Regions from separate parts of the Homo sapiens genome. Here region 2 is reported to be linked to region 1. Evidence: microRNA targets listed by miRTarBase, many of them from high-throughput screens and not tested one by one. Region 1 holds a microRNA gene; the other region holds the end of a gene's coding sequence.

What was found. The annotated mature microRNA hsa-miR-216a-3p reads UCACAGUGGUCUCUGGGAUUAU and lies in region 1 at 1,941-1,962, shown strand. An mRNA with a match to its seed (bases 2 to 7 or 8) in the 3' UTR can be bound and repressed. Matches are read on the target gene's strand: a 7mer-m8 pairs with bases 2 to 8, a 7mer-A1 pairs with bases 2 to 7 and ends in A, and an 8mer does both.
Region 2: the mRNA of ZNF329 is a reported target of hsa-miR-216a-3p. Seed matches in the 3' UTR shown: 7mer-m8 at 2,252-2,258, 7mer-m8 at 2,102-2,108 and 8mer at 1,285-1,292.

The regions. Positions count from the first base shown.
Region 1 is chr2:55,987,792-55,990,942 of GRCh38, reverse strand. MIR216A (microRNA 216a) reads left to right here and starts at 1,884; the gene lies at 1,884-1,993. All of the region lies in intron 2 of MIR217HG (MIR217 host gene), which reads left to right. The region is part of intron 3 of LOC105374690 (a long non-coding RNA gene); the gene reads right to left.
Region 2 is chr19:58,125,215-58,128,214 of GRCh38, forward strand. ZNF329 (zinc finger protein 329) reads right to left here. Exons shown (of 4, transcript NM_024620.4): 4 at 1,034-3,000. The coding sequence ends at 2,664. Among named protein-coding and RNA genes, the nearest start is that of ZNF329, 24 kb to the right of the region's middle.

The DNA of each region.
Region 1 (3,151 bases):
ATCAGTTTCTTCCTTTTTCTTTTTTAAATGCCCATCACAGCAACCCACTAAGGTAGGCAAGGCAGAAACGTATATGTCTTTGCTTCCATTGAGAGCCCACCTCCCTGTGCAGTTGTGGACATGACAACTTAAGATTAATAAAAAGCTGTCTCATCTTCCACATCAGCATATGATGTTCCCATTTATGATCTTTTCTTAATGTTTTCTAGCAGAGGGAAGAAGAACTACATACTCCTGTCACTTCTCTATGGTAACTTTTCACTATTAAACTTTCTAGAGAGAAAGGAAAATCAAATATAAGATTAAGAGAAAAGAAAAAACTGAACGTCATTCATGTTGCTCTGAGAAGCCCTTGTTTTTTGATTAAGATAAAATCTGCTTATTTTTAATCCTGAGCAATTTGACTCCAGAAAATAAACTTAGAACAATATTTAAAAAGTTAAATCCTAATGATGAGACATTCTTATTTTACAAAAGTAGCTTTGTACTTAGGAGTCCATATGAGGCACAAGATTATATTCAATTGTTCTTTCTCAATTGTTTTGTAACTTTATATTTACCTGACTTTTAAAACGAAAAGCCACTTTTCTAACTCTGTAAATTACCACTCTCTTAATTGTGTCAAGTCTCAATTATTAAAGGACAAGTTATGAGCTGAAATCCATAATTCTTTGCTTCAACAAACATTTGATTTAGTTTGACAAAATTTTTTTGAGCACTTATTAAACATCAGATGCTAAACTGAGAATAGTATAGTTGAGGATATAGAGATGAATAAGCACAGTGCCAACACTTGGAAGTTTGCAGTCAATGAAGGAGAAAGCATGTGAGTGAGAAAACACCATTGTGTATTACAGGTGCCAAAAAAGGGAGACTGGGGAGAGAAGGCAGTGTGTGATAGTTTTCAATGTGTGACTGTCACACAAGGGGGTGTGTGTGTGTGTGTGTGTGTGTGTGTGTGTGAAAGAGAGAGAGAGGAGGGAGAGAGAAAGAAGAAATAATTCCAAGTATGGGCAAACACAGCTCATTGGATTCTCAGAACTTGTTAGAGCTGGAGTCTACAATGTAGAGGAAGAAATGGTCTAGTATGAAGTGAAGCTGGAGAAAGGCAGTGGAAAATCTCCACCGAAGTGCAAATCGCAGCCACCAAAACCAGACCTACTGAATCAAAATATAGAGGTAGGTCCTGGGGATCTACATTTGTAACAAGTTTCCTATGTGCTTCTTACACTCACTCAAGTTGAGATGCCATCCACGGCAGATGGTGGGGAAACTCTGAGGGCGTTTCCTCTTCCTTCCGTTCTTAATCATTATTCTTACCATTGATTAGCCCCACCCAGTGGACTGAGGGGCTTAGATCATGGCTCAGTCTCACTTAGCCATGACAGTGATGTGGGCAAGAGGGGAGGACATACCACCATCTATGAAAGGTAATAGCCACCGCTATTGACACATCTGGCCATTTGGTGAGTATACGGTCATTACTTTTTCAACGTAATTGCTGGTTTTCTTGTCTGAGGACAAATTTTAGAGTGTTTGGCTTTGATGTTTCCAAGTTCTCTATAAAGCTTGTTTAAAAAATCATTTTTAGTGATTGGTTTTACATTCACCTGTACTCCTACTTGGCTGTTTCTTACTATATATGGATTAGAGTAAATCCTTTCTAAATGCAAAGATTATACTTTTATGACATTACATGCAATATAGCATATGCCAGAAATCTGTGAATTCAGCAAGAGGAGTAGCTTGATAATGTCGCCTCAAGAAAAATGCAGAGGGGTACATCAGGGCTTCTGCTGGTGCACTCGATGTATGAAGATGTGCTTCCACCTGAGGCAGCCACGTGCCTCTGCTCATACACTTTCTCTTGCAGGTCTAACACGGATGGCTGTGAGTTGGCTTAATCTCAGCTGGCAACTGTGAGATGTTCATACAATCCCTCACAGTGGTCTCTGGGATTATGCTAAACAGAGCAATTTCCTAGCCCTCACGAATCAAAAGACTTGCATGGCAACCAAAATTAAACACCAAATTTCTATTTCATGACCAAGACGGGGGGAAAAGTTTCGATGGTTACTGTTTCATGCTCAACCTCTTTTAATCTTAGTAAAGTCTTTTTCTAAAGTGCTGTTGTGCTGGAAAGGAAACCAGCCTTGGGAATTAATTTGCCTTTATTGGATTCGCTTGCTACTTACTGCGCTCCTTCAGTGCTACTTGGTTTTTTAAAAAATTGCAGCCAAGGGAGTTTGGGTGTTAGAAGCTGAACCCAAAATATTTTCCCTCTGAAAGCTCCTCCCACTCTCTTTGTGGGTGCTACTCCATCAAATTCCAAACAGTCTAAAAGAGGACGATCTCCTGCCAGGCCCTCCTCAAACTTCAACTCCCCAGATTATCACATTTAATCGCCCTTCCTCATTCCTTCTGTAAGTGTTTCACATTCATCTGCCCTAAATAATATTGAAATTTAGAATCAACTATGGCTTAGGCTGAGGTTGCCATGAAACTTTTGAGCTGTACCCAACTCTAATTCTCGGTGATCCCTGGAAACAGATAATCCTTTTCCATAAAAAGAATAAGAACAAATGTAATTCTTCAGGGTGAAAAATCAAGGCCAGTTATCTTCCTCATTCACCCAGTAACACAAAACAAATCAGATGAACCAAATTTATAATTAAATGTGGGATAACTTTAACAACAAAAATTATTAAAATGCTATTTCCAAGGTCTTGACTGGCACATATCCCCTCAGGTATCCTCAGAAAGAGAAGTCTGTATATCTCAGTTTGATTAAATTACATTTCTGGGCCGGGCGCAGTGGCTTACGCCTGTAATCCCAGCACTTTGGGAGGCTGAGGCAGGCGGATCATGAGGTCAGGGGATCGAGACCATCGTGGCTAACACGGTGAAACCCTGTCTCTACTAAAAATACAAAAAATTAGCTGGGCATGGTGGCGGGCACCTGTAGTCCCAGCTACTCAGGAGGCTAAGGCAGGAGAATGGAGTGAACTCAGGAGGCGGAGGTTGCAGTGAGCCAAGATTGCGCCACTGCACTCCAACCTGGGCGACAGAGCGAGACTCTGTCTCAAAAAAAAAAAAAAAAAAAATTACATTTCTGTATCAAGGCACATTAGTATGACCTATTAGATTTCCT
Region 2 (3,000 bases), not on the chromosome of region 1:
CAAGGTCAGAGGGCTCAGGGGATCCTGATTTAAGTTGGGTCAAGGAGAGTCTGCAGTGCACTTTTCTGTATGTGAGCTATACTCAAACGCAACTCTCTGGAGAAGACAAGTCAGCCTGGTCCCCTTTCATCCATCACCACACCCTGGGACACAGCACCATCCCATCCTGACTCCAGAGGGTTCAACAAGGGTCCCCGCTAGTCCTCCATGCCCCTGCACCTCTCACCATGAGATCACCATATCCCAATGTGTGTGGGGGAGCTTTACTTCTCTAAATGCTCTTTCAGGGCCACTCTTCCCTTCTTCACTCCGTGCCTCCATTACCTATCTACTCATTCCTCTCTCAGGACTGGCTGCCCACCCTTCCCATGACACAGCTATCAGAGGCATACCAAGGTTGGCTGCCTCATGGGAGACAGCAAGTGCCATGGAGGCCACAGCTGATGCCAGACAAAAGAGAACACACACAGAGAAGGAGGCATGGCTGCTTGAAGCTCCCCACGAGCTGGCCTGAGGGTCCGGACCTCAGAATACCAGCACCATGGAGACACCAGGTCACACACACATGAACCTTGATCCAGCTAATACAATGGGCCTGGCTGACCCCAGTCCTGGACTGACTCATCACTAATCTTCACTATCGTCACACCTGTCCCTTCTCCCAGGAGAGGAAATTGTCTAGAGGCAAAATCCCAAGGGGATCCACTCATGGGGCTTCAAGGCTGTGTCATCCACCTTGACTGGCTTTCACTCGGCCAGTACTGCACTGCCTCGGAAGGGCCACTCCAAAGTCATCCCAAATTTTCTACAGGCTTCCTGTTCTCCATTCTCTGGGACTCACTCTCTCTTCTACACTGACAACCCCTTATAACCCAAGTCCCAAAGAAGGAAGTTATTCTCATGCCCTGGGCTTTGGGATGCTGATTCCAGAGACGCTACTGCCCAATGCCCCTCCATCCACACTTACAGCTTCCCTGTTGCCCTGATCCAGTCCCTACTACTAAAGGTCCAAAGAAACCCCAAATTAACCTCCTTTTGGCTTCACTTTTTAATTTATTACCAAATTATTATGCCAACAAGTATCTGTAACAGAGAAAAAAATATGATACAAAATTCCAGTCCCCAAAGAAAACCACATTTTATTTCTCCATCATCCACTTTCAACATACATCCATATGTGCACATATTTTTACATGGCTGGAATAATAGTAAATCTTCTATTTGATGCCCCTTTTTGCCATATTATAAACATTTTCAACATGGCAATAAAACCTTTATAATGGTTCACAGTGGCTGAATTAGAAGCATCCTAAATGAACAACCATGGAGGTAGTGGTGGGGTGATAACATAAACATAACAACTCAGTATTTTTGCTTCAACAACTAAAGCAACAAACCACATCTGTTAGAAGCAGCCCTTTCCATCTTAGCACAAGCTTGTTTCAGTCTTTTTTTTTGAAATGGAGTCTCGCTCTGTCACCCAGGCTGGAGTGCAGTGGTGCGATCTTAGCTCACTGCAACCTCCACCTCCCAGGTTCAAGCAATTCTCCTGCCTCAGCTTCCCAAGTAGCTGGGATTACAGGCACACACTACTATGCCCAGATAATTTCCTGTATTTTTGGTAGAGATGGGGTTTCACCATGCTGGCCAGGCTGGTCTTGAACTCCTAACCTTGTGATCTGGCCGCCTCGGCCTCCCAAAGTGCTAGGATTACAGGCGTGAGCCACCACATCTGGCCTGCTTGTTTCAGTCTTAAGAGGAACGACTTCATTGTTCATTCACAGGTAATTTATTCACCTAGTTTGCCCTCCTGCAACGAGTCCTCAGCATTATTGCAGGAGTATAATGCAGACATACATTCAAACAGGAAAATCTCACACATTCTGTGGTGTGTGCAGTACAGCACTGTGTGGACTCTCTCATTGTACACCTTTGTTGTTACAGAAAACACAGTAAGAGCCCCTGCCAAAGCCTCTCTTTCTGATTACACTTAAAAAAGGTTGATTCAGGCCAGGCAGTGTCTCATGCCTGTAATCCCAACACTTTGGGAGGCTGAGGTGGGCGGATCATGAGGTCAGGAGTTCAAGACCAGCCTGGCCAACACAGTGAAACCCTGTCTCTACTAAAAATAGAAAAAATTAGCCAGGCATGGTGGCAGGCACCTGTAATCCTAGCTACTTTGGAGGCTGAGGCAGGAGAACTGCTTGAACCTGGGAGGCAGAGGTTGCTGTGAGTGGAGATCATGCCACTGCACAGTGAGACTCTGTCCGAAAAAAAAAAAAAAGTTGATTCAGTGTTTGCTTACGTACAAGGTGGAAACTCCCTACTACAGGGCTCTTCATTCCAATCATGTTCTGAATGCATTCACAGGTTCTCTCTGTGGTGTCACCCCCATGTTTGCACATTTCATTCCAGTGTGTGTGTTGTCATGTCTGGTACAGACTGAATCATCCCCAAAGACTTTTCTGCCCTCATCCTAAGTTGTCTCTGGAGTTCCCCAATGAGCAGACTTAACAGTGTGGCTCAGCAATGTCTCACATTCATCAATTCACTGGATAGCTTAAAGGATTCTTTTCTACTGACCAGAGAGGAGTCAGATCTAAGACACGCCTCCTAAACACAGGAGTGAGAGTGAACTGGAAGACTCATGTGGCCCCCAACCATTATGTTTCCATGGGTTGCTCTCCCAGGTGTGCTCTTTGATGTCGAACAAGGGATGAGCTCTTTTGGAACATTTTTCCACACTGAGGACACCGGCTGGGACCCTCCCTGCTATGGAGTCTCTGATGTACTGCCAGGTGAGAGTTCTGCTTGAAGGACTTCCCACATTCTGGACACTGATATGGGGTCTCCTTAGTGTGAATTCTCTGGTGCTTGGTCAGACAGGAGCTGTCCCTGAAGGCTTTGCCACACTGATTACACTCATAGGGCTTCTCACCAGTATGAGTCCTCTGGTGCCTAATGAGGCCAGCGATATTCCTGAAAAGTTTCTGACACTGG